Linked DNA regions of Homo sapiens. The protein of the gene in region 2 purifies or fractionates together with the protein of the main gene of each other region. This does not show direct contact. Each region holds a gene or a part of one and is shown on either strand. Other genes may lie near its edges. The genes, in order: ATRN, RNF157 and CHD1.

What was found.
Region 1: the proteins of RNF157 (region 2) and ATRN purify together in Homo sapiens (affinity purification with mass spectrometry; 2 studies listed by BioGRID and IntAct, with this or other methods). This does not show direct contact.
Region 3: the proteins of RNF157 (region 2) and CHD1 purify together in Homo sapiens (affinity purification with western blotting; 2 studies listed by BioGRID, with this or other methods). This does not show direct contact.

The regions. Positions count from the first base shown.
Region 1 is NC_000020.11:3,465,408-3,475,534, reverse strand, and holds the start of ATRN (attractin isoform 1 preproprotein), read right to left. Parts: upstream 4,518-10,127; 5' UTR 4,463-4,517; coding exon of another isoform or gene 4,428-4,462; coding exon 4,018-4,427; intron 1-4,017. UniProt on the Homo sapiens protein: Involved in the initial immune cell clustering during inflammatory response and may regulate chemotactic activity of chemokines. May play a role in melanocortin signaling pathways that regulate energy homeostasis and hair color.
Region 2 is NC_000017.11:76,158,950-76,168,652, forward strand, and holds part of RNF157 (E3 ubiquitin ligase RNF157), read right to left. Parts: intron 8,849-9,703; coding exon 8,702-8,848; intron 8,178-8,701; coding exon 8,060-8,177; intron 7,579-8,059; coding exon 7,512-7,578; intron 6,597-7,511; coding exon 6,553-6,596; intron 5,847-6,552; coding exon 5,799-5,846; intron 3,675-5,798; coding exon 3,603-3,674; intron 3,054-3,602; coding exon 2,894-3,053; intron 2,699-2,893; coding exon 2,586-2,698; intron 625-2,585; coding exon 386-624; intron 1-385. UniProt on the Homo sapiens protein: E3 ubiquitin ligase that ubiquitinates APBB1 for its degradation by the proteasome and thus prevents apoptosis and promotes survival of neurons.
Region 3 is NC_000005.10:98,924,824-98,935,257, forward strand, and holds the start of CHD1 (chromodomain-helicase-DNA-binding protein 1), read right to left. Parts: upstream 4,185-10,434; 5' UTR 3,716-4,184; intron 3,709-3,715; exon of another isoform or gene 3,417-3,708; intron 1,712-3,416; 5' UTR 1,564-1,711; coding exon 1,511-1,563; intron 1-1,510. UniProt on the Homo sapiens protein: ATP-dependent chromatin-remodeling factor which functions as substrate recognition component of the transcription regulatory histone acetylation (HAT) complex SAGA. Regulates polymerase II transcription.

The DNA.
Region 1 (10,127 bases), on a different chromosome or scaffold from region 2:
ATCACACACCAAAGATTCTATAGGTATTTTTATTAAACTGACATCCTTTAACTTATCCTTTAAAATCAGTCATTTCTATGTCATCTTTTATTTAGAAAAAATGTTACTAACTACAATAATTCAATAATCTAAATTTTATATAACACCCTCAGAGTTGTCCTGAGGATTAAATAATACAATGTACATGAAAATGCTCTGTGGCACATAGTCTGCACTCAGTGATAACCTTAGGGAAATCCACTCCTCGTTAGCCTACGTTCCCTTCAATTAATGAAAAAACCCTATAACGGCAATTATAACACAGGATTTACAGGACTAAAAAGCTCAAAAAACACTCCAACTTGATGCCATTCTAAATCAGAAAGGTATTCATTTAATGTCTTTTAATAACAAAGAGGTTTGTAAGTTCAATCAAGATACAAGCCACTGCAATCAAAACCAACATTTCACTCTTGCCCCCAAAAGAATACTTGGACTAAATTTTTTTTTTTTTTTTTTTTTTTGAGATGGAGTCTCACACCCTCGCCTGGTCTGGAGTGCAATGGCGCAATCTCGGCTCTCTGCAACCTCCGCTTCCCGGGTTCAAGCAATTCTCCTGCCTCAGCCTCCCGAGTAGCTGGGATCACAGGCGCCTGCCACCATGCCCAGGTAATTTTTTGTATTTTTAGTAGAGACGGGGATTCACTATGTTGGCCAGGCTGGTCTCAACTCCTAACCTCTTGATCTGCCCGCCTCAGCCTCCCAAAGTGCTGGGATTACAGGCGTGAGTCACCGCGCTTGGCCTCGACTAAAATTTTATTGAGTTTTTGTTGTTGTTGTTGTTGTTTTGAGATGGACTCTCGCTCTGTCACCCAGGCTGGAGTGCAGTGGTGCGATCTCGGCTCACTGCAAGCTCTGCCTCCCGGGTTCACGCCATTCTCCTGCCTCAGCCTCCCGAGTAGCTGGGACTACAGGTGCCCGCCACCACGCCCGGCTAATTTTTTGTATTTTTAGTGGAGACGGGGTTTCACCAAGTTAGCCAGGATGGTCTCGATCTCCTGACCTCGTGATACACCGCCTCGGCCTCCCAAAGTGCTGGGATTACAGGTGTTAGCCACCACGCCTGGCCTACTGAGTTTTTTTTAAAAGACCAGAGTCATAAGTTCCTCCTACTTTCATTTTTAAAAATGCAAAATCCCAAAGCCCACAAAATATAATGGTATCATCAGGACCAAAGTCATAATTGTCTACCCAGGAAACAGCACTGACATCACCTAGAATCAGCTCAAAGGGAATGTCCACAATAAGCAGGGGAGTCCCTTCACTCACCTGTGACACTATTTGAGACAACCAGTGTCAGGACTGCCTGTTCCCTGCAACAAGTAGCTCTTATCCAATCCTCTGGGCTTTCCATGTGGACTCTCAGAGAGAGCTCCCTGGCAATCTCCCTCATAGGTCGATGACTCCAAACTTAACATCTGCCAGGTGTGTACTCTGAGAGCACCCCAAACTCAGCATGCATGCAATTAAATGTCTAACACCTGCTCCTGTGTCCCTGTGTCTGTTAATGGTATCACTGTCCTCTCAACCACCCAAGACAGGATCTAGTTTTCTTTCCCTCACCATCCCCCACCTTTCCAAGAGCAAACCAGTTTACACGGAAGACTTGTCCATTTCACCTCTACAAGCTCTCATTACCACTGCTCTGACCCATGCCAACAGATCCCACCTAGCTGCCCCCTATCTCTCATGCCCAAAGTGAGTGTACCTACTCTGAACATTACAGATTGATCTTGCTATGAAGTCCCCTTCCCACACCGCTGGTCCCCACTGCCTACCACAGTGTCCCAGGTTTTCAGAACTTGAAGGATCCTCGTCTGACTCAACCATCCATTCACCTGACCTTGGAAGCTTCTCAAATGGAAAATGCCCTGGCCTCACCTTCAAGGCCATTTGTATTCTGGCTCCAATCTAAAAGCCTATAATGTCATGAAAATAGGCGTGAACTACGCCATTTCACAGCTCTTGGGCTAAAGGTCAAAATTCTCAATCCAACCCACAGATCTCCACTTGGCCTGGCTTCCCGCCTTTCTCTCCAGTCTTGCCAAGCTCCCCTTTGCTCTCTCTGCTCCTGCCACCTGGCCTTCCATCCGCTTCAACCCCAAGCCTCTGTACCTGCTGGCCCCTCAGCACCCCACCCCTCACGCAGGTAGTACCATCTCACCCCTCAGACTTCACATCGCTTCCTCAGTGACTTACCTTACCCCTAGACTAAGTCAAGTCCTCTGTTTGTCTCCTGCTCTTTACCTCCACAGCCTTAAACAAAATTACAATAAAATTTTTGTTGGATTTTTTTACTCCCAAGCTGAAATGTGAGCTCCGTAAGAGCAGGACTGTGCCTGTCTTGTATACCACTGTATCTCACAACCTAAAACATAGGAGCCCTCAACAAATACATGTAGGTTAATGGAATTCATAAATCAGAACACCCTAAGTTACAAAAGCAGCTTCACTGCATCAGTGGTCCTGAAGTAACTTGGTTTCTCCATCCATAAAACTAAAGAGCTCATCTGCTCAACGTTCTCTGAGTTCCTCAGAAGACCTAATATTACCTAAGTCTACAATTTTGCTATTCCAAACTCCTCTCTCACAACTCTCTTCCACATAGGCAGCAGCAAAACTTTACTTTCCAGCCTCCACAACTTTGTTTGCACCCTTCTTTCCATCTGTAATTTTTTTCCAGCTCCACATTTCCAAATCCTACTTAACCTTACATGCTCAAATCCAATGTTACCGCCTCCTCAAAGTCCTCCTTGCATCCCTCCAGCTAGCCACAACCTCTCCATCCCTGAATTCCCACAAGTTCCCTGTTGCCTCATTCAGGTCTCAGATCAAATGTCATTTCAAATGAGAACCCTCTCCAAGAGTCACCACCGGTTATAATTCTCTATCAGACCACGCTGTTTTTATTTTCTTGATAGCATTTACCATTACCTGAAATTACCATGTTTATTTCTCTCATTTATTTACTTGTTAAGTGCCTGTTGCTCCCACTAGAATGTTAAGGTCAATGAGAGCAGAGGCCCTGTCTGTCTTGTTCACATTTCCCCACTCCCCCACATCAGACATGTGTTCAGTAAGCTAAATACCTGTCAAAGGCGTGAATGACTCTGTAACCCTTATGACTAGGGTTATGTGCGCACATTATCTTTCTCTTGCTATATTCCAAACTCCCTGTGGACAAGGCCAAAGTCTGGCTAATCTGTCTGTATTATCTGGAAAATCATTGCACAACTGAAGCAAATAACGATAACTGCTAATTAATTTATTGATTTCTCCAAGAGGAACTGCCCCAAACTAAGCCAATTCAGAACTTCATATTGTCCAGAAACCAAGGCAAATAGGAATCTCCTTCCATTCCCTCTTCACCACAGACCCTATTCCAATTTGCCACCTCCAGGGAGCTTTTGCCAAAAGGCTAGTTTCCTCACTTTCCTTTAGAAGGACCACTGGTCCTTCTATCCCTAATATCTTACAATGCTACCCTTTCCCTTTTATCTCCAGCCAACAAAGCATTTCCAGGGCCCTGTTTCTTCAGAGCACCCCACATCTCCAGTGCATCGGGGAACTCATCGGGTCCTAGGGCACATGTGGATGTTAAAAGGAAGTGTTCAAGCAAACCTGGCTCGACCACCTTTCCTTGGATACCTCGTTTAGCTGAAACACGCCGAGTTTTAGAGCGATCGGCTTTGATGCTCTTTGGGTCCCTCAGCATTCTTCCCATCTAACTAACCTAAGCACCCAAATACCGTCGGGGTGCCCCCACCCTTGCCCCACACCTTTTCACCTTCCAACAGAGAAAGACCCCAGGCCAGAGACGATGATCTCCCCGGAAGCAAATGGCCCTCAAACCCCATAGGGCGGCCCTACCCTCTCCACTTTCTGTCCAGCATCTCCCTCTGACCTGGAGCCGTCTCGAACGCCCCTCAGCCCCAGCCTCTGGTTGGACCCGACCCTCCGACACCACCCGCCACTCACCTGAAGCGGCCCCCGCAGTGCTGGCATTGCTCGCCCACCCAGCCGGCGGGGCAGACGCACTGGCCGGTGCCAGGGTTGCAGCGACCGCCGTTGACACAGGGCCGGTCACATTCCTTGGCCTCGGCTGCGGCTGAGCCCGACACCGCCGCCGCCGCCGCCGCGGCCTCGGCCTCACAGGGCAGCAGCAGCAGCAGCAGCGGCGGCGAGAGCAACAACAGCAGCAGCAGCAGCCGTGGCCGCAGCGGTGGAGACAGCAGCCGCGGGAGGCGCAGCCCGGCCCCCAGCCCCGGCCTCCCAGCCCTGGTCACGTCCCAGTCCCAGTGCGGCCCGCCGCTCCTGCCCGCGAGCGCTGCCGTCGCCGCCGTCCTCCTCCTCAGCCTTGCCTCAGTTGCCGCCGCTGCAGCCACCATCTTCCCGGGGCTGAGACGGCGCCCCGCGAACACATACACACACACCGCACGGCCGGCTCCGCTTCGCCTGGCCGTGCGGGGCGGGGCTGTGCGGACGGTGGCTCGTGCGGTCCAAAGGGGCCACAGCGGGGCGGTGGGCGGGGCCGGCGCGCGCGTGCGCGAGTACGTGGGTGCGTGCGTGCGGGGGCGCAGACAGTGGTCTCCGGCGTCCGCGGCGCCGGAGGCGATCTTCTGACGTGGACCGTAGAACGAGCTGAAACCCGGCTGCGCTGTCCCGGCCGGCGAAAGCTCTAGTTTTCCCCCTTCGCCTTTCGTCCCCGGCGGCGGGGTTGCAGCCCCACTGGATGCCTAGGAGCCGACTGCGTTGAGTGTTGCCCTCCTAGAGACCCGGCACTCTGCCCTAACTCCAGCTGCCGGACGGAAAGGGTACAGGAGGCTGCATCGCAGCGAGGTGCTGGGTGCGGTACTGTAGAAGCCAGGCTTCATTCGAGCCTCTGTAACACAAGAGTCAAGAAAGAACACATGTAGAACCTGGCATAGGCCGGGCGCGGAGGCTTACGCCTGTAATCCCAGCACTTTGGGAAACTGAGGCAGGCGGATCACTTGATCTCTGGGATCCGAGACCAGCCTGGCCAACAGGGTGAGACACTGTCTCTACTAAAAATACAAAAATTAGCCGAGCATGGTGGTGCGCGCCTGTATCCCCAGCTACTCCAGAGGCTGAGGCAGGAGGATCGCTTGAGTCTGGAGAGGTCAAGGCTGCAGTGAGCCGCAGTCGCAGCACTGCACTCCAGCCTGGGCAACACAAGACCCTGTGTCAAAAAATGAAGAACCTGGCATGTAGGCTGTGCTCAGTAAATGCCTAATAAACTGAATGAAGACACACAGCCAGGCCTCTTGATAACAGATGGACTGTAGCTGACCAGACCCCCTACCTTTAATTCTGTAAAAGTTTGGAGTTACCTTGCTCCCCACAATTTGCCCTCCAACCATCTTCTCTGAAGAGTGGGCAATATAGAATTAGGAAATGGCGCTCACACAGACCTGCCCCTTCTTGTCTGGTAGTTGTTACTCTGGTGTCCCTCAATGAGACATGTCTTCCATCAATGTAGCCTTTTATGGTCCTTGACCCTGGAATCTGGGCTGGGTCATGATTGAGACCATGAGAAACCATGACTCAATTTCACCAATAGAAGAAGTTGGTAGGAGTAGCAATGTCTTGTTTCTAGCTCTGAGCTTAAAAAAGACCTGGCAGCCTTGGCCGGGCACGGTGGCTCACGTCTGTAATCCCAGCACCTTGGGAGGCCGAGGCGGGCAGATCACGAGGTCAGAAGTTCGAGACCACCCTGATCGACGTGGTGAAACCCTGTCTCTACAAAAAATACAAAAATTAGCCGGGCGTGGTGGCACACACCTGTAATCCCAGCTACTCAGGAGAGTCGCTTGAATCCAGGAGGCAGAGGTTGCAGAGAGTCGTGATCGCGCCACTGCACTCCAGCCTGGGGGACAGAGCGAGACTCTGTCTCAAAAAAAAAAAAAGACCTGGCAGCCTTGATTTTGAGCTGTTGGTGGTCATGAGCTGCACCCCGTTAGCCACCTTGCTGGAGAGAAACCATGTGCAGAGACCACTTGGACTTGGAGAGGGAGAGCTGGGCCGCTCAGCTGGTGGAGCCATCCTAGCTAAGGGATCAGTCATTGAGTGAAGAAGCTATCTGGGTTGGGTTATTCCAACCGTCTGGGCTGTTCCATGTTACCTACAACAGTAACAGGTCTTTCCTAACTGTGACTTATCCAAAATCCTAAGAAATAACTCATTTATCATTTAACCCTTAAGTGATGAATTATTTATAATTTTTCATAAATTATGATTTATGTTATTTTAAGCCTCTAAGTTTTAGAGAGGTTTGTTACTCAGTAATAGATAAGCAGAACATTGTCCGACATAATGCTTGTGCTATGAGGAATATTCCTATGGCACCTACCTCAGAATCTGGGCACCTTACAGTCCCTGGGAAACAAAGAAAAACCCTCATAGACCTGTGGAGCCTCTCAGCTTTACCTCAGAGTATGGAATTTTAAGGTTCTAAGATGGATTTCCACACTCATACCCAGGTCCCACTCTCATACTCAGGTCCTGACTGTCCTCACTGCATCTTCTTCAAGCCTGGTGAAGCTGAATTGCACAAAAGCCTTACCCCCAGCTCTACATCCACACATACTCCCCATTCCTACAGGAAAACTATTGTTCGGCCTAGGCCCTAGCACTGACATTCTGGTTTGCAGGTTATGTTTTTGCCATGTAGGATTTTGAAATTGAAGACATGGCCCTACCCTCTGGCAGGACCCCATCAGATGGGGAGGCTGGCATAGGCCATGCCCTAGCTGTAGGAGACATTGCTCCCCCTAATCTTCCAGGCCAGAAGTGAACCAGCCCTTTCCTTCCCTTCCCTCCCCACAGCAAGACTGAACCCACACTGTGAAGTTTCACATGATTTTACCAACATTCAGGGATAACAGAAAAGGTGTGCATCTGAAGAACAGCAATCCCTAGACTAGATATTGCTACTCTGAAGCCTTAGAATCTTGCTGCAGCAAACATTCTTTCTTACTTCCTTAATCTACTCTCTTCTCTGGTTCTTTTTCCTTAGCTTTCAAACATGCTCAAATTATTTTGTCCTTAAAAAACAAACACGCTGGGTGCAGTGGCTCATGCCTGTAATCCCAGTGCTTTGGGAGGCCAAGGTGGGAGGATCACCTGAGGCCAGGAGTTTGAGACCAGCCTGGACAACATAGTGAGACCTTGTCTCTACAAAAAATTTTTTAAAAAATTAGTCAGATGTGGTGGCGTGCATGTGTAGTCCCAGCTACTTGGGAGGCTGGGGCAGGGGGATCACAGAGCCCAGGAGTTTGAGGCTGCAGTAAGCTATGTTTGGACCACTGCACTCCAGCCTGGGCAACAGATCAAGACCCTGTCTCTAAAAACAAATAAACAAAGAAACAAAATCTTACCTGCTATCTTCTTTTTCCTTTACTGCGTTTATCAAAAAGTCCCCTACACATTCTATGTCTGTGTGATAGATTAAAGATGGCTGCAAATTCTCTTACATTCCTTCTATGGAGAGATCAGGTCTAACCCTTGGCCCCGGCCCCACCCCCACCCCCACCCCCACCCCACTCTGAATCTAGCCTGGCCTTAGTGATTTGCTTGACTGATAGACTATGGTGGAAGTGATGTACTGGGATTTCTGAGGTCCCAGAAATGGGACTTTATGCTAGGTCATAAGAAGTCTTGCAGCTTCCTCCTGAAGTGTCTTGGAACACTTGCCATAAAAGATGTCCAGCTACCCTGAGACCACCATGCTGTGAGGAAGCCAGCCCCCAGCCATTCAAGTCTTCCCAGTTGGGGCCCCAATCATGAAGCAGGGGGGTGTTGTTCCTGCTGAACCCGCCCCAAACTGCAGATACATAAGCAAATAAATGAGCCAACTGGGGACAGTTCGTTACACAATAATAAATTACCAGAATACTCTGTACCCTGGTTCCTCCAAGGACAAGAATAAGTCTTGTGATGTGGACTTGATTAAGAATTAAGAACGACAGTATAATTGTATATAAATGTATAATCTACAACTAGTCATCTATATGTAATACACTAGTATCATTGTCCAGTTGCTTCTCATGAAGGAGGTCACCGTAGTCACCGTAGCTTCAGAAGTGCCTCTGTTGTACCCCAGTGCCTTATCAGCAAGATTCTGCAGCAGTTCTGCCTGAAATCCCTTTTTTTCCACTGGTCTTTGTCATGGTGGTCATTTCCAGGTCCCAGAAACTGTAATGCCAGTGGCAAAGAATACCCAGGCTTTGATACAAATTACTCTAAGTCCAGACACTAAAATAACATTGTTCTTGCCAACTGCATGACCAAAAGGGTTTGTCTCCACTAGGTTAGTGCAGGATGGTTTGAAGGTGCCTATGCCTATTCTTTTTCACTTAAGTAAGGCATCTTACTCACCTTGGCCCTTTCTCTGATTTCATGTCATCTCTTCCTGTTTCTTTGCTTGCATTGTCTCCAAGTCATGGACATAGATGGATTTTATAATTTTTGGCTTTTACTCATGCAGTGTCTTTGGTCAGATTCCCTAGAAGCAGAACCCTGAAACAGGATCTGAGTGCATAATTCATTGGAAGATTGCTCTCGGAAGAAACACAGTGAAGGAAGCAAGATAGAGCCCAGGAGGGGGTTGAGAAAAGATGTGGTCTGGTCTTATCTAGAGTTGAGCTTCAGCCTGATCCTATGGAGAGCCCTAGAGCATGAATTGTACCATAGAATTGATTCCACTTTGAGGTAAGGGAGCAGCATTTTGTACACACATCTCTTTCAGCAGACAACATTCACAGCAGTAAGAAGGATCCTATAAAGGAAATTTGGGAGGGGTACCAATAGATACAAATAGATAGCTCCATGTATGTGTAATACATATAACAAATGTTTGTTTATCAAATACCTACTAGAAAGCAAAGATTGAATACTGCTCAAGTAAGATCTGATTGACCATCTGACTTTCCCGCAAACATCACCGGTCCTCATTCTGCACTGTTTGAAACATCGATACATTTTATTGTCCCAAAGTTATCCTTATACTTTTAGTCAATGTGTGACCAAGCAATTCTCTAATTATAGGTGTTAAAATCTCACCTAGAAGGTAAGGTACTACGTTGCCTGTGAAAGAGGTTGATCCTGAAGGTTTGGAACAAACACAACTGAGAGGGTTCTAGGTAGGAATAAAGTGCCATTGAAAGCTCCAATGGATATCCCACTGTCAACCAACCAGCAATAAGATTCCAATAGTCCTTGGCAGACTGTAAGAGAAAGTGTTTAGGAGTCCCTGATCTGGGAGCATAAAGTTATACCTCTGAGCTGTTGGCAGAGCTCCTGGTGGCCTCCTCAGACAAGTCCCACAAGTACAGGAGTTCACCTTTATGTCAGCTCAAGGGACAAGACGCTGCACTGGGATGAGCACATCAATTTAAAGGCAGAAGACTTGAAATTTCTATTGGATGAGCTAGATTCATGCCCCCTCCCCCAAATTTCTACAACAGAGAACAAAAATTTTCTCTTGTGTATAGATAAGATACTATGAAAACAGTACTACTGTTAAAAGACAAATGACTTTGCTAAATATGGCCATGAAGTACTTCAAATTAGAAGTTCCCAAACTGAAGCCATCCTTTTGGATTAAAATCCCTTATAATTTCTCCTAATTACAGATGACATATTAGTTTCCTGTGACTGCTATAATAAATTTCCACAAACTTGGTGGCATAAAACCACAGAAATTTAAAAGTTGACAGTGCAGAAGTCCTACTAGTCTGGTTCTTGTTCCCACCTGGGTACCAGCTTCCTTCAGCAGTGTTGGCCAAGGTGCTGGGGGCCAACGAAGGGAAGAGTCAACTTGTGAGAATTTTGCAGGTCTGTTGTTCTTAGCACAATGCAAGGCTAGACAAAGAGGAGAAAGAAACTTACCTGATCAGTGCCAGAAGTTATTGCACTCAAAGGGGAATAAGCAGGAAAAAAGAAAGGAAAGAGGGAAGAAAGGAAAACAAAAGGAAGGAAGGAAAAAGAAAGAAAGAATAGAAGGAAGAAAGAGAAGCCCCACAGACATGAGATGAAACCCTGTCCAAAAATGGAAGGAAGGCCAGAAA
Region 2 (9,703 bases):
GTCATGATTTGTGCCTAGCTGGATTTAGATGTTTAAGAGATACGGATCACAAGGTTCCTTCAGTCTTCGGACTAAGCAATGCTCCCAGGGGCCTAGAAGGCCCTATCCACAGTGTTCAACATCCTCTTCCCTATATCCCATCCCCTATCCTTGAAAGAAAAAAAGAATACATAAGAGATTTGTCTCATCAGAGTTTTCTTAAGTACCTACATACCATCTTATTTTCATCTCTTAATGGATGGGATAACCTTCACGCAAGCAGCTCTGGGAACAGCCCAGAGGGTTACTCTGCCCTAAGTCCCCAGGATGTGGGCCAGCACCAAGGAGGGATGAAGCATTTCATCAAGGATTCCGGGGGCAACAGTGTGGAGCACTGGCTACTCACTTGGAGAGACTCTTTTTGAGTTTGAGTCCCTGACTGCTGCTGTCAGACAGGCGGTCAAGAGGCGAGATCGTCCTGACGGGGGGCAGGTGGCCATCACTGCCATATGAAGGGAGCATTCCTGAGAGGTGGCCATCTCCAAGCACGTGAAGTGGAGGAACTGCTGGGGACGGGGTGAGGGGCCCGTTGAGGGCCTCCAGAAGAGATACTACTTCATAGCCTGGTGGAATATTCTCTGAGGACTAGGGGAATCAGAGACAGGTTGAAAAATTAATTAGGTCCTTTTTGTTTTATGACGTGATCATGCTACTTCTCTACACTGAAAAAAATGTTTTATATCTGTTCTTGGGGGGGTCTGGTAAGAACAACTGTACTAGAGGCAGAGATAAAATATCAAAGAATCACACACTGTAGATCCTGCTTATTGGTAAGCTTTTTCTTAATAATCTCTATTTTTTTTCTGATTATAATGGAAATTTGGAAAATACATAAAAGTAAAAGTAAGGAAAAAAAATCACCAGTAATCAAATCACCCAAAGTTACTTTTGTTAGCATTCTGGTGTCTCTTCTTCCCATTTTTTTTCTGTGTACTATTTACACAGTTTTGATCAATCTGTAAATAACAATTTTATATTCTGCTTATTTTATTATACTTTCCTCTTTAAAAAAATAGAGATGGGATCTCACTATGTTGCCCAGGCTGGTCTTGAGCTCCTGGTCTCAATTGATCCTCCCACCATGGCCTCCCAAAGTGCTAGGATTACAGATGTAAGCCACCATGCCTGGCCAGAACATAAATATTTTCCTTTGTTTCTGAAGCCTCTTTATATATGTCCCCTTCTCATAGATCCCCTAAGTTTTCTAACTATTCTCCTAGTGCTGGGAATCTAGTTGTGTCTAACACATCCTATTGTAAACAAGTTTTGATGAACATCCTTGAATGCCTTTTTTTCAAATTATGTTCTTGTTATTAAATTATTAGCTCTTAGATGATGAGGTATAAATGTTTTTAAGGCCTTGATATATACTGCTGTTTTCTGCTGTTTTTTTTTTCAGTGCCTTTTCTAGTTACACTCCTATAAGTAATACAGAAGACCTATTCTGACTGCTTCCCCGAAAGCAGGGAGAATCGCTAAAAAGAAAAGTTTTTAAAATTTGAAAGTTGGAAAATGGTATTCTCATATTTGCATATCATTGATTTTTAATGTGGTTGAACTTTTTAAAAAATTCTATGTTGAGTGTGTTTTGTTTATGCCCTTTGCCCTTTTATCTACTGTTTTATTCAATATGAACTATGGCAAAGACATTAGCTTTTCCTCTGATACACACATTGTAAATAGTTTTTAAAAAAACACTATTTGTTGTCTAACTTTTAATTTTGGTTACCTTTTAGACCTCTGAAGTGCTAAACTTTTTAGGTGGTAAAATGTATGGTTCTTGCTTTCAAGCTTAGAGAATCCTTTCCAATCCAAAGTCAACTAAATAATCATCTATAATTTATTCTAGATTTTGAATGTTTTGCTTGGTTTGCTGTAATGTTTGTTTGGTTTGATGCTCTTAATATAGTTAACTAGTTACTCCAGCTGGAATTTATTTGGTAAGGAGTAAAGTGCTAAACTAATTTTTCCTCCTGAAATAGCTAACTAATTATCCCAATACCATTCACTAAATAATAATCTCTCCCAGCAGTGCGTTAGTCTAAAGAAAGACAGTATCTGCTGCTCTCTAACTGCAAAGCTTTGAGGTTTCACCCTAATATCAGCACTTACACTAGGAAACTGAAGTCAGTTACTTTATCTCAGGCACTGAGGCCACAAAACAGGATAAAGAAAAACAGTTACTTTCTTCGAGGATTCAAATAAAGATAATAAATTGTATTTAAATCCAAAATAATCGTCCCATTGTTTCTGCCTGGGGGAGTTCAAGTTGAACCTCACTGGAGTGAAACTGCAAGCAGATGGCTCTAGGAATGGTAAACATTAACTGGACACCAAGTTCCCAAGGAGGAAAAGGGAGGTTTTCAGTATTCAATTTTCCACAGTAATAAGTTGGTTTTAACGCATGCTCTCAGCCGGCTTGCTAAATACTGCAGCATGCCCTGGTCTAATTCCTTGCTGCAATGCCACGTAGAGAAGCATGAAAAGTTTAAAAAAGCCAATGAGGCATTTGCTTCAGAGGGGCCGTGGTTCCGAGCCCAACTTACTGGATGCTCTTCAGAGTCAGATGTCTGGGATGAGATGATGGGGTTAAAGCTGGTTGGGGACAAGGGGCCCAATTTTTTCCTCATGGCTCGGATCTGAAGCAGTGCCCGGAAGGCTGTGAAGGAGAAAACAGGCAATCAGGACATCCTGATACAGGATTAAGAATGAACAAGAGCCCAGACAGAAACCATGATCCCTCCCAGCGCGCATCCGTTTGTCAGATCCAGCAGCAGCACATGCTTCAGTGTTTTGTAAATGTCCTCTTGTCCCCTCTCCCACCCACCAGTCCCCCTGCCGCTCTGGGGCTTACGCAGTCGGCAGATGGGGCAGTTGTTGGCCTGGTAGCGCAGCGTGTCTGCACAGGTGTTACAGAGGCAGAGGTGGCGACAGGGCAGAATCAAGGTGTCCCGGACATCCGAGAGACACACCACACACTCGGCACTGTTATCACTCACTTCGTCTTCAGCCACCTGGCCAAGGAGAAAGAAATGTAGCCAATGGCACAAAGCCCTTCCTGTCCCATACTTTACTGACAAGGCAGCGTGGCTGAAGAGCTAAGATAAGTAATAATTACGAACAAAATCTGCATTGACATTGGACTTTGTCATTTTCCCAGTGCGTCCACACACTTAGCTTCACTTCTTCTGGGAAGTGTTTATCTAAAATTGAGAGGACGAGACTAACCACTCGAGCTCCTCCTATAAGGCCCAGAGCTGGGCCTCTCAAATCTCAGCTGAAGGGACTTAGGGGATCACACAGATAAAGGAAAAGGAGCAAAGAAAGGGCCCTGGTGGAAACCGAGTTGGACAGAGCTCTGTGGCAGAACAAAGCCAAACCAGCCTACTTTTCTCATTTCCAAAGTGGTAAAAGCGTAATGATCTGAAATGAGGAACAAGAAAATACCCTTCTAAGACCTAACTGATTTCAGAGTTTGGCACGCTAAATTTCTGGACGCTGGCTTACGATTTCTCACTTGGCCTCCTGGAAAGAGTACATTCAGAATTTTGGGTAAAACTTACCTTAGAATCTTGTGTGTTGTACTTGTTTTCAATTCCATAGATCTCCTGAAGGAGGTAGCTGACCCCGTCTACCTGAACAGCAAACAGAAAGGTTCAAGGACAGGCTGTCTCTACTGAGAGACAAGAGTGGGAACTCCCTCCAATCTTACCTCTTTTGGTAACCAAGGACTACCGATTCATAATGAGAAAAAAAATCAAAGGCCTGGATAAGTAAAAGATGCTTTTATTTACTTATGTTTTCTCTTTGAGAGAAGAAAGAAAATCAAATATTTAATTCACCCATCATTATATACAACAGGGAACATAAAATTTCACAAATACAATAATAATACTTGCACTGCAGCATACTATTATGGACAATTAAGAAGGCACAGACTAGAAAAAGGATGGAAGGGCATGCATTAAAATCTAGGCATTTGCTATATAATCCAATTTGAGTTCAGACATTATACAAATAAAGGAATGGAAAAGAGAAAGAAAAAGAAGAAGAAGTTGGCAAGGAAAAAGATGGGAAGGGAAAATATGGATGCAAAGGGCGATAGCAAGACCTTGAGGGAGAGGCTAATGGTGTGTACCCCACACCATGAAGCCACCCCATCCCCAACATGCAGCAAAATTACACCTCTTGGCCCTGTTTCCTTTTTTTTTTTTTTTTTTTTGAGATAGGGTCTTGCTCTGTCATCCAGGCTGGAGTGCAGTGGCACCATCTTGGCTCGCTGCAACCTCCACCTCCTGGGTTCAAGCGATTCTCCTGTCTCAGCCTCCTGAGTAGCTGCGATTACAGGGTGTGCACCACCATGCCTGGCTAATTTTTGTATTTTGTGGTAGAGACGGGGTTTCACCATGTTGACCAGGCTGGTCTCAAACTCCTGACCTCAAGTGATCCACCTGCCTCAGGCTCCCGAACTGCTAGGATAACAGAGATGAGCCATCAAGCCCGGCCAGCCCTGTTTCTTAAAACCCCAACTACCAAGGCCCAATCCCACTCCCATTAACCTGGGCCATGTCAGTGTCTAAGTTGGCCCTGCCCCATTTACTTTTAGGAGCACACTCTTCTGCCTCACCTCTGTTTCTTAGCCATCCCTTCCCCTAAGACATAGCCTGTCGCTGATTTTATATCCCACTCTCCGTTTTAACAGTCTGTTGCTAATGCCAATCTAACAAGAGGAAAATGGACAAACCATCTTCCTCTAGCTACACGAGCCTTTCCATCCCATCCAGGCCTCCTGGAGAACCAGGCCTTCCCCCATGAGGCAACTCACCAAGGCCTGGCCTGCCCAGGTAGTGCCCTGGGCCTGAGCCCAGGATCTGTTTCCTCCTCTGCTGCTCTTAAAACTTGTTTTCATGCAGTGATTATATTGGAAAACTAATTTATCCTAAGATATTCTTATTATTGACCTCATTAAAAGAGAGGCGAGTAATTAACCTAAAAGAACGAACAGTGTAGAATTTCAGGTATCTATCACCCATCTACAGGAAGGCTTTTCTTTGCATCTCGAGGAAGCCCAACCCTGCCTCCTACCCAGCTGCTCTACACCCTCCGTGAGATGACCTGCCCCTCACCCACCCTCCCTTGCCAATGCCACTGGCACCACTCTCTCTCCTCCCAGTGATGTCTCCTCCTACCTCTACAAGAGTGGAAAGAAAAGTGCTGGCACATGGTAGGGGCTGGGACTTTCTAGCAGACATATGCACAAGGTGCTGATCATTCTGGAAGAGGGAGAATGGATGGCTAACTTTGAATTTTAGAAAAGGAATGGATAAATTAAGCCAATGACTCTAATTACACTAAATTGGACCCTAATGCTTTATCCTTTCGCTTGAAATGTTTCTCACTCTGGCATTTTAAATAAAAAGAGTTCTCCCTAAACCCAATGTTGGGAAATAAATCTTGTTCTTTCATTTCTCAAGTCCTTTGCTCAGATAAAGGCTCCCTCAACACCAACACTTCTGGAACAATGAAGACCTCAAAAATCAGCATTCCTTTCAGGCCACCCAAGTCGTTTGTAATAGCTTGTAACATTCAAAAGCACTCCCTTTTTTTCTTTTCTTCTTTGATTAAAAAAAAAAAAAGAGGAAAAGGAGAGAGCAAAAAGTAAAACAAAAATAAAAAAAGAGGGAGAGAGAAGAAGAAAGGAAAGAATAAAAGGAAGGAAGGACCCTAATACTAACAGTCTGTGGTCTTCAAATACTTACTACTTGTTTCTGTTTGAGGGGCTTGACACAGAAAGTTCCATCTGTGTGCTGGAATGAAAATATGAAAGTTATGACAAGGAAGGGAGGGTAATAAAGCACCAGGTATTCTTCTGTTACATCTCCCAGTTACAGTCGCCCTCCCTGATCTGCAGTTTCATTTTCCATGGTTTCAATTACCCGCCATCAACCACTGTCTGAAAATATTACATACAATATTTTGAGAGAGAAAGATCACATTCAGACTTCTATTACCTTATAGTTATAATTGTTTTAGTTTACTATTATTCTTAGTCTCTTACTGTGCCTAACTTATGAATTAAACTTTATCATAGGTGTGGATGTAGTATGGGAAAAACCACAGTGTATATGAGGGTTCTGTACGATCTGCAGTTTCAGGCATCCACTGGGGGTCTTGGAACTTATCTCCTGAGGATAAGGGGGGACTACTGTACACATGTTCCTGGACACTCTCAGAGCAGAATTATACAATCCTAATTCTTTAAAGGTCTTATAATTATCCAGTCTAGCCTTTCTTTCTTTTATTTATTTATTTTTTTTGAGACAGAGCCTCACTCTATCGCCCAGGCTGGAGTGCGGTGGTGCCATCTCAGCTCACTGCAACCTCTTTCACCATTATAGCCTCTAAAGCCAGACCCATTCTGCTGAGCTCAGGCACCCAGCAAACGGGTTACATGTGTCTCACACGAAAGAAAGGGCTAAAGGCAATAAAGCGAGGCCCTCTAAAGTCACTCACCTTCTCAAAAGTACCCAGCAGTACATGGCAATGGCCAAAATACTCTGAAAGAAACAAAGGCACGTGAGTGAAGAAGCCCAAACAGCACATCTTGATGCCCATGACTTTCTCCAGTTCCCTGCAATCTGGCAAACCAAATGTGCCAGTCTGTCTCTAGAAGGGGCACGTTATATAACCCATACTTTTTTTTTTTTGAGACAGAGTCTGGCTCTGTTGCCTGGGCTGGAGTGCGGTGGCATGATCTTGGCTCACTGTGGCCTCCGCCTCCCGGTTCCAGCAATTCTCCTGCCTCAGCCTCCCAAGTATCTGGGATTATACGCATGAGCCACCATGCCCGGTTACTTTTCTGTATTTTTAGTAGAGACGGGGTTTCACTATGTTGGTCAGGCTGGTCTCAAACTCTTGACTTCAGGTGATCTGCCCGCCTCAGCCTCCCAAAGTGCTAGGATTACAGGGATGAGCCACTACGCCCAGCTAAACCACATTTTTTTGAGACTGAGCCTCACTCTGTCACCCAGGCTGGAGTGCAGTGGCACAATCTCGGCTCACTGCAACCTCCGCCTCCCAGGTTCAAACGATTCTGCTGCCTCAGCCTCCCAAGTAGTTGAGATTAGAGGTGCACACTGCCATACCCAGCTGATTTTTGTATTTTTAGTAGAGACAGGGTTTCCCCATGTTGCCTAGGCTGGTCTCGAACTCCTGACCTCAGGTGATCCACCCACCTCGGCCTCCCAAACTGCTGGGATTATACGTGTGAGCCACTGTGCCCAGCCAAACCCACACTTTTCACATCAGCCCAGGAGCTTGGAGTCACAGATGTGAGAGGATGCAGAGACTGCCTGACTCACAGTCACAAACACCCACAAAGAAGGCATGTTGTTCTGGGGCCACAGCTGCTGCCAGGAATATGCCACAAAAGAGCAGTGTGCACAGCCAAAGAGGACAGAAATCGCCCCTACCGTCTCCTTCATCCACCACGGCATGTACCACTAGAGGGTAAACTTCTCGGTCTAAATCAAAGCCAAGCTGAAGGGAAAGAAAAGGAAAGGAAAAAAAAAGAGGACTTAACACATTTACATGGCACAGCTAATCTCAGAAAGGGCGATACTGTCAAGAAGCATTAATCTCATCTCTGCTCCTCATTCTTTAGCCTTGTTAATTACCCAAGTTTGTTAACTGAGGGCCATCAGCTGCTTTTTAAAAATGTCATAGATGTAAATAAGAACCTCTAACCTATAGATTTTTTTTTTCTTTGAGCATGGCTTTCTCAAAGTATCCTAGGCTAATGGGCTATTTCCATTCCTAGGGAATGGAAAAATTAACAAAGTTAGGTATATCCTTGATGCAAAATAAGCAGAGCTTTAAAAGGACATGATGAAGTCACAAGGCTGAAAGGTAAGCATGGCCTTCAAGCATCCGAGCAGCCCCTTTGCTGTCAGACCGAGTCCTAAGTAGCCCCTAGGCCCTTCTGAGTGGATGTGGGAAACCCTCCCCAGAGGCAGCTCACCTCCTCTTCGGCCCACTCGGAGGGATCCACGGTGTGGGAGGGCAGGCAGAACTGCTGACACACTCCTCGCTTGTACTGCACAGTCTCCGACTGGAGGCTGTTGTCTTTGGGAATGTAGCTATTGATACAAGTGGGAGGCAAAGCAAAAGTCAGTATCCGGCACAGATGGGTCTGACAACTTCCTCTGCTCATGCCTGTTCTCAATTATCAACAGGGTCTAGCGAAGAGAAGAAAGGGTCCTTTATAATCCATTTCCTTTGCTCTTGCTTGGCAACGTTAAACTTTTCTATTCAACCCACACATCCAAAGAAAGGTAGCTTACTAGATTTTTAACAGCATGTTAAGGACCTGAAGGACTATACCACCATTTGTCACTATACCAAGATGGCACAATTTGAAGGGAAAAGGTAAAGGGTAGGGCTTTGTAGAAGAAAGTCTAAATTCAGGAACCAGATCTCATCTGGCTGCAGAAAAAGAATGTTTTCCGCCCTTGCTGAGTGGATAAGACATGGACTCTCCCTATCTGGGAAGGAAGTGGCTCGCCTGGTCTCCTGATCTTACCTGGTAATACCATTCTGGAACTCTTCCGTGGCCTGGTAATAATCTGGGAAGGAAGTGGCTCTCCTGGTCTCCTGATCTTACCTGGCAATACCATTCTGGAACTCTTCCGTGGCCTGGTAATAGATGGTGATGGCTACCCGAGCATCTGTGTCAAAGGTGAACTCAACATTGTAGTGGACTTTAGCTTTACTGGCCTCTTCTCCAGGGCTCTTCACTTCCTCAGCACATCTAGAAAACCAGAGACTCAGCATTTGCAGAGTAGCATATCAATATTTTAAAATTTACCTTTAAAAAAATTAGCAATATATTGTGGGCTTCTCTGAATGATCATAAGCATAGGTCTACCTCTTCATTCTGAATGATCACAGAGTGCTTCATGACCCATGTTGCTGGGCATTCAGGTTACTTCTGGTATCTCATAGTGCTACCACTACACCATTGTGCATTTGGCACTTTTGTTTTTATTTTAATAAAAGTTATTAATCACATAGTTTAAATAGTTTCCTCAAGGCAAAAAACAGCAGGCCTTACTTCTTCCCTTTCCTCGTCTTCAGAGGACACCCCTTTTAGTGATCATTTTGGCATTTACCCACGTTTCTAAAAAATATACTTGGGTTACTACTTCTTGATTTTTCAGTTTCAGGCGCTATCTATGGGTTTCCTACTATGGAAACAAGGATTTCTTTCTCTTTCCTCACTGTGCTCCATGTAGGAACTCCGCCATCCCCCCAGTGTAGCTGCATCATGATTTTATTATAATAGTCCAGTACATTTGTGTCTGTATTACTGTGATTACACAAACTTATAATCTATGATTATTTTTCTTTTCCTGCATAACTTTTTCTTAGTGCTCATCCTATTTTTTTTTTTTTCTTCCAGTTGCGTAGTTTCCTATGTACTCATCACAAATTCCAACCCAAGCTCTCTGGGGCTGTCTAAATCTCTCAAGACGTTCAGATGCACCAAGCGGTCTATTCATTTCATCTTATTGAGGAGGTCCCTTGGACTTGCTCCCATCTGTACTTGGCCCTCTGCACCTGGCTCCCAGTCGCCACCCTGGAATCTCTCTCCCCCTCCAACATC
Region 3 (10,434 bases), on a different chromosome or scaffold from region 2:
AAAAATTAGCTGGGAGTGGTGGCTAGCGCCTGTAATCCCAGCTACTCCGGAGGCTGAGGTAGGAGAAACACTTGAGCCTGGGAGGTGGAGGTTGCAGTGAGCCGGGATCACACCACTGCACTCCAGCCTGGGCGACAGAGCAAGACTCTGTCTCAAAAAAAAAAAAAGAAAAAGAAAAGTCCAAGTTTCAGATCAAATACAAATACCACTATTTAGTTTTCTATCTAACATTTTTTCTTAATCTTCCTAATTGCCAAAACTTTCCTGTTTCTTGTCCACCCCCATGTCTCCATCACTGTAATTAATGTTTTTTTTATATAGTATCCTGTGTTACACAAAACATGCTGGTTACAATAAGCAAATATTCAGTGCTCATTATCTCAGAAAATATTTTAAGCCCTTTACATGAAGCATCTCAATCCTCAAATTTTTTTTAAATTTTATTTTTTATAAATTACAGACAAAGTCTCACTATGCTGCCTAAACTGGTCTCCAACTTTTGAGTTCAAGTGATCCTCCTTCCTCAGCCTCTCAAAGTGCTGGGATTACAAACAGGATCCAACAAGCCCAGCCGTGAACTTTAAATAAGATAAACAATAGTTTAATCCCCTCTTTATGGGGCAAAAATCAGAGCCTCAGAGATTAAGTAATTTGCCCTAATTCACACAACTAATAAGAGGTAGAAATAGGGTAAGCAAACAGTTTGACTCCAGTGCCCACATTCCTAATTTCTATATATGATAATGCATATAACTACATGGATTGTAAACTAATGTGCAGATAACTCAAAATTTGAGAGCTACAGAATTTAAAGAATCTTCTTTGCAAACACTTGACCCAAGCAAGAACTCTTAACTCCTTCACAGATAATTAAAACTCCAATCTGAAAATAAAAAAGGGCCACAGTAATATTTCAACAAATGTCTGGCTCAGCACTGTCTAAAACTTTCTCCAGTGATAGAATGTTTTCTATGTGCTGTCCAATATGGTAGCCACTAGCCACATGTGATTATTCAGCACTTGAAATATATCTAGTATGACTAAGTAAATTCTGAATATTTTGTAATTGAGTTCAAATAGCCACATGTGGCTAGTGGTTACCACACTGGACAGTACAGGTATAGAAGACAAAATGCCAGAAAAAGATGAGTGAAAAAATTTTTATTGCCTTCATCTAGAAATTTCACTAACAGTCAAAACAATTTAAATCTATTATACATGCTCCAGCTTAATTATTAGCTCAAATATAAACTTCCAAATAGATTTAAGTAAACAAAAACTTTCTATATTTAAGATCTACTGTGTATCTGAATGAAAAATATAATTAAAACCTGTATTATGAAAAAAGGTTCGTATATCAGAATTTTTTTAGTATTTGGATAGCTAAGAGGAAAACCTGAAAACTCTGCTACCTATGAGGAAAACTAAATAACAACAATAACAATAAAGAAAAAAGTCAAGTTTTCAACTCTCTTCATAGTAAACAATTGATAACAAAGTGCTTACTTACCTTGATTCTCCACTACTGTTTCTAACACTTTCTTCATCACTGTGTCCATTCATTGTAAATTATTATCAAGAAGTTTTAAAGTAAAATATAAATCTTCCCAGTTTAAAAGATGAATATAAATACTGACTCCTTGAATATAAAAATTCACAGATGAATTTTCTTCAACAGTCACAGGTTTTCTGGGACTCTCCTTTGATTCACCTAAAGAAAATATATTAATAAATTAACAAAATTTCCTGCAGAAAAAAGGTAAATTAAGCCCTGTCTAAAACGTATAAATCTACGTAGGCCAATTAGACTACAGCTGTTAAGGAAGAAGTGGGGGCCTTTTATTAAATACTTAAAATATCTAGACTTGTAATAACTACACTCCTGACTGCTAACTAGAATTTAGTATGCTACTGCTAATATACTTCGGACAGAAAAAATTAAAATATTTGTGGAGTGAAAGGATTTTTAGAGACTAACTGCAACTAACAATGTTTTTATAGACTCCTAAAGCAAGGTGATACGATGTAACATATGCATACATCCCAAGAGTAGATAACGGAGTCTTATTAGATAACTTGGTCGAATAAATGAAGTGGGGGGGGGGGTGGGAGGAGGTTACCTTTAATCAAGCCCTCACTCCTATCACCAAGAACTTCATACACTTGAGTGAGAAAGTTCTGAAAACGCTCCCATGGGAGGAACAGGCAAATAAAAGATACCATATACTCTCAACAAAAATGCATAGCTCAAAATAAATGTGTTATTTAACAGGTAAACGGATAGTGGGATGATAACATTTAAATAATACTTAACCAGTTTGCACTTGGTTTTTATTTTGTGAAAAAAATTGAAAAGGTAATAGAATATACACTATATCTGATTTTTTACGTAAAAAATTTGGGGCAAGAATAATGAACCAAGACACACCATTTCCACCTTTAAAGATTTCAGTACAACACTGAAGAATCACCTACAAGCCATCCACGAATAAACAAAGGAGATCTCTGGCAGGGGAGGGAGAGGAAGAAGCGGGGGAAGGAGACGTCAGATCCTTCCCCAGCCAGAAAGTACCGAGACAGCCAACTGAGAGCAGAGCTGTCCTCCGACCTCAGCAAAGAGAATTCACTCCTACGATTATTTCCATTCCACAAGAGAGGGAGGGAAACAGATTGTTACCAACTCAATGATAGCAAAGTCTGCATCTGGATCAGGATGTTAATTCTCTAGACTACTGTCCAGTAGACTCTGCAAGAACAGGTTATCTAAAAAGTAACCGTTCTACTCAACATTTATTCCTAATGTTAAATATTAATCTCAACCCTAGTCAAAGTGCCTTACTGAACAATTAAGTCTTAAAAAATCTAAGTATGTTAACAAACTGCCTTTCCCGTTTCTTCCTTTAAAAAGTTCACTCCCCTTTTCGTTCTTTCCTTTTCACCTTCCTTTCGTCCCTCAAAATGGCTTTCTCTGTACATTTTAACTTCCTTTCCCCTCCATCTCCCTTATCCGAATAAGTCCTCTGAGACCCTTTTCACAACCCTGAGTTCTGAAGCTCCAAGCGCACACAGCGCTGTGTCCTCTCAAGCGTCTCCACAATGACTACCCTAAGTTATTAAACCTCTTCAATCCTCTGTCTTTTAGCAGTTGCTTTGCTCCTGCTAAGTTTTTAAAGCGGCACTCGAAAGAGGTTTGGAAACCATCCTCACTCATCCATCCAGCGCGCTCCAATCAGCCTCCCTCGCGGACCTGCCCCCCTCTCCCAGGGCCTCCATCCCGGTCCAGGAGTCCCTCTTCCCGCCTCAAACTTCCCGCAGACCCGCCCCGCGCCCTCCCAGGCTCGCCCGAGCCGCCGCCCCCTCCCCCTCCCGCCGCTCCCCACGTGCTGGGAGCCCGGGTCGCGGCAGGACCCACGCACCGGCTAAGTGCTAGCCATTCGCGGGTCTCCTCTCGCGGCCCGGTCGGCACCAAGCCGAAGAGGCCGGGGCAGGGCCGCCGGGCCGGCGCAAGGATGCGTTCTGCGGCCCCGGCCTGTACTCGCCGCTCACACGCCCCCTGCGCGCCAGGCCCGTACACCGCCACCGGCACTCACAGAGCCACCCGGCCTTCACCCGGCCGCTGGGCCGCCGCCTGGGCACCGCGCCGCGCCCGCCCTCCGCCCGGCCGGTTCCTGTCCTCTCCGCCACATCCTGACCCGCCCGCCGCCCCCTTTCTTACCGGCGGGCTTGGCGGGGCGGAGGGAGCCGACTCGGGTGGACGGCCTCCCCCGCGCCCAGGCCCGGGATCTCCGCCGCCCAGTCCTAGGGCTCCGGCGTCTCGGGGTAAGCAAGAGTCCGTGCGGGGGAGGGGGAAGGGGACAGACGCGGAGGGGAAGGGGAAGCCCCGGTCCGCAGCACCAACGCGCGATCCCCTGCGGAGTGGAGCTAACAATTCATTATTGAAGCACCAAGGGCGAGGGCAGCAAGAGCTATAAGTAACCAGTCGTCGCCGCCGCCGCCGCCGCCGTCGCGCGCGCGCTCCCGCTCCCTCCGCTTATCTGCCCCCGGCAGCCGCCATGACGCCGAGAAAGCAAGCGAGCGCAACCGTCTCCGTCGTAGCCGCCGCCGCCACCGAGGTCGCCGTCGCCTCCGCCTCCCGCGCGACGTAAGCGCCTCTGCTCACTCCCCTTCCCGACAGAGCGCGAGGCGGGCGGGCGCGCGCACGCCGAAGCCTTTCTGCTCGCGCGCGGGAGGCGGGAGGGACTACGTTGAAGGGTCGTGGGCGTAGGAAAAAAGCGATTGGTGCTGGGGCGGGGCGGGGGGGGCGAGTGCGCGCACGCGCACGAATGGGAGTGCGCACGGCGGATGCGCAGAGGCTGTCGGACTCTGACTGCGCGGAGACCGCTGGACTCTGGTCGCGGCCTTAGTCCGCTGATCCTCGCTTGGGTGCCCGCCCTTAGCGGCCCGGCGTTGAATTCCGGGAAGTGGGAGCTTCAGGCTCGCTCCGTGCGGGTATGGGCGCTAATGTCACTTGGGATGGTTGCGCAAGGACATCGCGGCGGACACTGACAAGGAACCGGGGAGGAACGGGGGTGGGGAGAGACTGCGATGGGACTCGGGAAGCCGGGAAGGGCCGCGCTGAATAAGCCTAAGGGGCCGGGTCGCAAGGAGTGTCGGGTAGCACAGGCCTCGGCTCAGTCGGAGCGCCAGGCCTCAGGGTCCGGGCGGGGGCTGCTGCGTCACACCAGGCAGCCTGGGAACGCAACTGTTGGGCAACCGTGGTGGCCTCTCGCCACCTCTTACGCTTGGGCGATCTGCGATTGACGCATCCTGGGAGCTGATGTCCCGCACGGGCGGGGCGCCGGAGGAGGAGAGAAAATAGAGACCCGGTTGTTGACAGCCTGTGATGCCGCTTGATTCATGTGTGGGTGGCCTGGTTTAGAAATGTACCACCCTTCCTTTCTAGGTTCCTCCCCGGAGGGCGGGGTGACGGGTGCGGCGCCGAATCGCAACAAAAAACGCTGCTCGAGGGATGTTAGTAACTGTCTCAGCTTAAGTTGCTGCCTTTTAGCTTACAGTTTGTATCGTAACTGTAATTGTGGATCTTAGTTAAATCCCTTCAGTGTGTTGGAAACATATTTTTAAGTGTATTTTTGAAACATACTTAGAGCATTTTGAAATGCTTTTTTGAAAGCGTTTTTTAAATCAAAATTCTGTTACACTTTATTTTTTTCAGTCTGCAGATGAACTTGACTCACTCAAGGTTAATGATTTTTGTTTTTTATTTATGTTTGTAGAGGCGGGGTTTTGTCATGTTGCTAGGTTGGTGTTGAACTCCTGAGCTCGAGCGATCCACCTGCCACTGCCTTCCAAAGTGCTGGAATTACAGGCGTGAGCCACGGCGCCCGGTGGCCGAGGTTAATAATAATTAAAAGTTTCTAATCCCATTGTTCAGTTATTTGATTTGGTGTAAAGGCGCACTTTCCAAGTCAGATGAGTTTGTGGTAACATACATTCCCCAAATAATTATTTTTCCCTTGTGGGAAATATTCCAGTTTTAGGCTACCAGCTGTTTAAACAGTTTGGTTCAAATCCTTCAAAAAAATCTCAAAACATAACTCCACATATGTATTTACTACATATTGAAGGGTGTATTCACTTGGAGAAGTAGGAGAAAGCAAACAGATGCCAATGGCCTTTTTGAAAACATGTATCTATCAGCAATAATTGAATAGCAAAACGAAGTGGAACACTACCATCCTTTGCAATATTAGATAGTTTTAATACTGGGTTGTGAGGAATGAAAAGATCATACAAATCGTCATTTCTGAAGTCATTTCTGAAGTCGTCATTTCTGAACTGAGTGCTAATTTTTCATATTAAGCTTTATGTTAATATCCTTAATGAGAGGAACTTCCTGTGCCCGTAATTTCTCCAGAGAAACTATTAACATACACAGAATGTTGTAATCAGAAGTATAGTTCAGTTAATAAAGTCCTCAATTACAACTCTGACATTTTGTCATTGTCTTATGAAAAGAATTACTGTATATACAGTCTATTTTACGTTTTCCGGAAGCACGTCAGGCAGGTTTTTTGTTTTTTTACTACTAATTGTGCCATTGAATATGCTATTCTGTCGTATTGTGCCATCAAACATGCTATTCGAAAAAAGATCTTGCCCAATTTGTAATAAAATATTGAACATTGGAGATTTAGATTTCGAGTAAAATCATACTTTATTGCTTTGCAGAAGTACACAGTAGGTGGAAAATTGCAACAATCTTGCCAGTTCATTTTTTAAAAAGCGTGTAGGTAATCCAAAGATACCTTTTTGATGATTTGTTATCAACATAGTTAAATTTGCAGTGTCACTTTATTTGAATAAACTAGCTTTATCTCTACTTAGTGGTACTAAAACAATAGCCAAACAGTTGATAATCTCAACACATGACTAACGAAAAATTCCACATAATTAACATTAACCAGGAGGTTTTTGTTACTATTTAATTTCTCATTTTTAAAATTTCATATTCTTTGGAAAGAATATTACTTTTCCGGAATCTAAGACAGCATTTTGTGGGTCCTTAATTGTGATATGCTTTACTAGGTAAAGTACTAAATGGGTATCCTTAGGTGGGGATAGGCTGGGAACCACATATCCAGAATTGTGAAATATATAACATAAACAGGATAACTTGCTCCTTTGTTAGCTTTTTGGATGCCAGGGTTAAGATTTTAATTCCATAATTATGTCCTTGTTGCCTGGAGGATTTGCATATGAGAAACCACAAAAACAATCGGGACATTATTAAAATACCCTAGAATCTCAACCTGTGACAGTATTTCCCATGTCCTTGCAAAACCAGAGGAAGTCTTTCCAATATGATTCTTAAATTTACAAAGTCCTCTGAATAGAAACCATGAAATCCTAAGTCATCTTCTAGTGAAGATTTGCTGTACATTTTCTGTTTTCCTAATAAGAAATTAGAGGAGTTTAGTTCCCAGTGTTGGGCAAGGGATAGGACTCAGTCACCTGGAAAGTTCTTTTGTAACTACACGTGCCTGACACTCCTATTCTTCCCCTCTGCTGATATGCAGAATTTCTAGGTTCTAGGTAGTATTTGGGAAGTTTCCCAGATTATTCTGATATCTACCAGCGGCTCATCCACCTTCTTTATGGTCACTGTATTTGGGGATTTTGAATGATAAATTCTTGAATCACTAAAAGCTAAATTTCAAACAGAAAATTGTTAGAGATGATACTAAGAGGCAAGTATGTATAAAATCTAATAGGCATTGAAGAAGATACAAAGATTCCATCCTCTACTGAAAAATTAAGTGTGCACGCAGAGTAAGAAAGAAGGTTAAGTAGCCAACCTCAAAAATATTTAAAAATTATTGCATTGATGCTGTATCACTCATTTCCTTGCCCAGATTCTTTTTTTTTTTTTTTTTTTTTGAGACAGAGTCTCACTTTGTCACCCAGGCTGGAGTGCAGTGGTGCTATCTCATTTCACTGCAATCTCCGCTTTCTGGGTTCAAGTGATTCTCATGCCTCAGCCTTCCAAGTAGCTGGGACTACAGGCACGCGCCACCACACCCAGCTAATTTTGTGTACTTTTAGTAGAGACTGGGTTTCACCATGTTGGCAAGGCTGGTGTCAAACTCCTGACCTCAGGTGATCTGCCTGCTTCAGCCTCCCAAAGTGCTGGGATTACAGGTGTGAGCCACCATGCCCAGCCCTTGCCCAGATTCTTTATTCACTGCTGTCCAAATACTGTTGGTCCTCTGTACCTGCAGGGATTTGCAGGTACAGAGGCTCAACTATAAGGGACTTGAGCATCCCCAGGTTTTGGTAAATGGGGGTCCTGGAACTAATTCTCTGCAGATACTGAGGGACAAACGGTACCACTCATTTTAATGCAGAAATTTTGTATTCATCCTTTCTTTTTAACTCCCACTACCGGGCTTAGTTTAGGCCTCTATTTTCTCTATCTTTCCCTTCAGCTTATCCTTTAGGTTTCCTTCAAACTTGAAATCTAACTAAATCAGTCCCCTGTTATATACCACATATATTTGTAAACTAAACATATATGAAGATGTATGTACATATCATATATTCCTAGTATTTTAGTTACTTAATTTTTTCACAGACTAATCTCAGTATTGCCTCTCATCATTCCTAATGGACACTTGGTACTCTAGACACTTCTTCAGGTCACTGGAAAGGTATCTCTCATTGTAAGTGGATATAACCCATTTATCTTATGGGTCAGTCTTTCATAAGTTCGTTTAAGTAAATGCTCAAGAACTGTTGAGTACCTTGACACAATTGTGCTGACAACCTATAAGACTTGTCAGAAAACTCTCTGACCTCCCTTTTAGGACATGGAATTGAGTATTCTGTAAGTGCGGCATGTCATTGTATCACAATATAGCATTTGTTTCCATACTACATTGTGAGGTCCTTGAGCAAAGAGTACTGTGCCCCAGTGCATTGTATTGATATTCATTCAATACAAATGTAAGAATGTATTACATACCAGACATTCTGCTGAGGGTAGGGAGGGATTATAATACAGCAAAAACTAACACTTTCAAAGTTAAAGCCTAGTTCAGGACACAGTCACACTATAAAATGACAACTTAGAAAAATAGTATGAAGAGACATACGGTGCTGTGAGAATCCATAATAAAGAACCCTAGTCAGAAAAGTCTCAAGGAAGTGACGTGATCGTTGTGGTCTAGAGCTGAAGAATTAATATGAATTAGGTAGGCAAGAAAGGGAAGTACAAGAGCTGCTTTCTGGGTAAAAGAAACAACATGGGCAAAGATTCTGGGGTCAGAGAGATCACGTCAGTGCACTTGCCAGTTTGCCAAGAACAGGCCGTATTCACTTTCAGAAGTGTTCAGGTTTGGATAGTAAATTGCAGGGCCATCCTATCTATAAGGGACTCTAAGAAGCATGGTTCTGCTGGAGCAAACAGCAGCTGGACAAGATGAGGCTACATAGACACTAGGCCCAAAGGCTAAGTGAAGTATGTTTTTCAAGACAATGAGGAAGCTATTGAAGGATTTGAAACTGGGTGGTAGCTTGATGGGACTGGCAAATTGAAAGTTTTTACTTTAGGTATAAATCCCAAAGAAGGATTAGATGTGGGTTGAAGTAGATACAGTATTCCTAATTAAGTCAGGAGTCTTTGGCAGATAAGAGAGGTTAGAAATGACATGATAGACTAGGATAGTGTAATGGAGGTGGAGAGAAGTAGAATTGGGAAGGGTAACAAAACTTGATGGGATTGGATTCAGGCAGGGTTAGGAGGAGGAGGGATGTTAGTCATTTGCAGCTGAATGACATTCACTTATATAGTAATGTATTTGGAGATGTATAGATAGGGAGATCATTACGTTTGGTTTAAGACAGAATTGGGCCGGGTGTGATGGCTCATCCCAGCACTTTGGGAGGCCAAAGCGGGTGGATCACAAGGTCAGGAGATCGAGACCATCCTGGCCAACACGTTGAAACCCTATCTCTACTAAAAATTAAAAATTAAAAAATTAGCCGGGCATGGTGGCATGCACCTGTAGTCCCAGCTATTTGGGAGGCTGAGGCAGGAGAATGGATTGAACCTGGGAGGCGGAGGTTGCAGTGAGCCGAGATCGTGACACTGCCTTCCAGCCTGAGCGACAGAGCTAGACTCTGTCTTGGGAAAAAAAAAAAAAAAAAAAAAGACTTACAGAATTTCTGATGCCTTTGAATTGCCCAGGAGGTTTCTGGATAGAACCATGGAGCTAAGTGAAGTCTAGACTGAAAATTAAAGCTGTTAAGTGTGAAGTGTGTAGGGAAAAATTAAAGTCTTGAGTATTCATGAAGTAAACTTGGAAGACAGCCTAAGTGTGTGCAGTGAAGAATTCCAGTTTATTTTTGACTAGGTAGAGGAAGATGAACTGGATAAGGAGGAGTTACACAGTTACCAGCAGGGTGTTGCGCTACTGAAGATGAGTAAGGCTTCATGGAAAGAGTGGTGAATAATGTCCAGTTGCTGTATAAGAATTAGGTGGAAGGATTAGCACATATTAATCATCTAAAAAACAAATACATTAATATCTTCAAAGTCTGATTTGGGAGAATTTGTTTTCATTGTTTTTTTTCAAACAGGAACTGAACAATACCATCATTTACAGTTACGGGCTATGGGTGGTCACTTAATTGGTGTGATTTGAGACTGAGAACCTCCTGTTCCACAAATCTATACTTCATCCTCTACTAATGCTTGAAAAGTCATTGATAGAAATCTGTTTTAAAGCATATATTCCTGGGAAGAGTAATATGTTTAGAAGATACATAATTCTCAGCTGTGCCAAAATTTAGAATTAACTGAGGAGTTGTGTACTAAAAATGCTCAAGATTATATTCCATGGTTCTGAGGTGGGGCCTTGGCACATGCATTTTTTT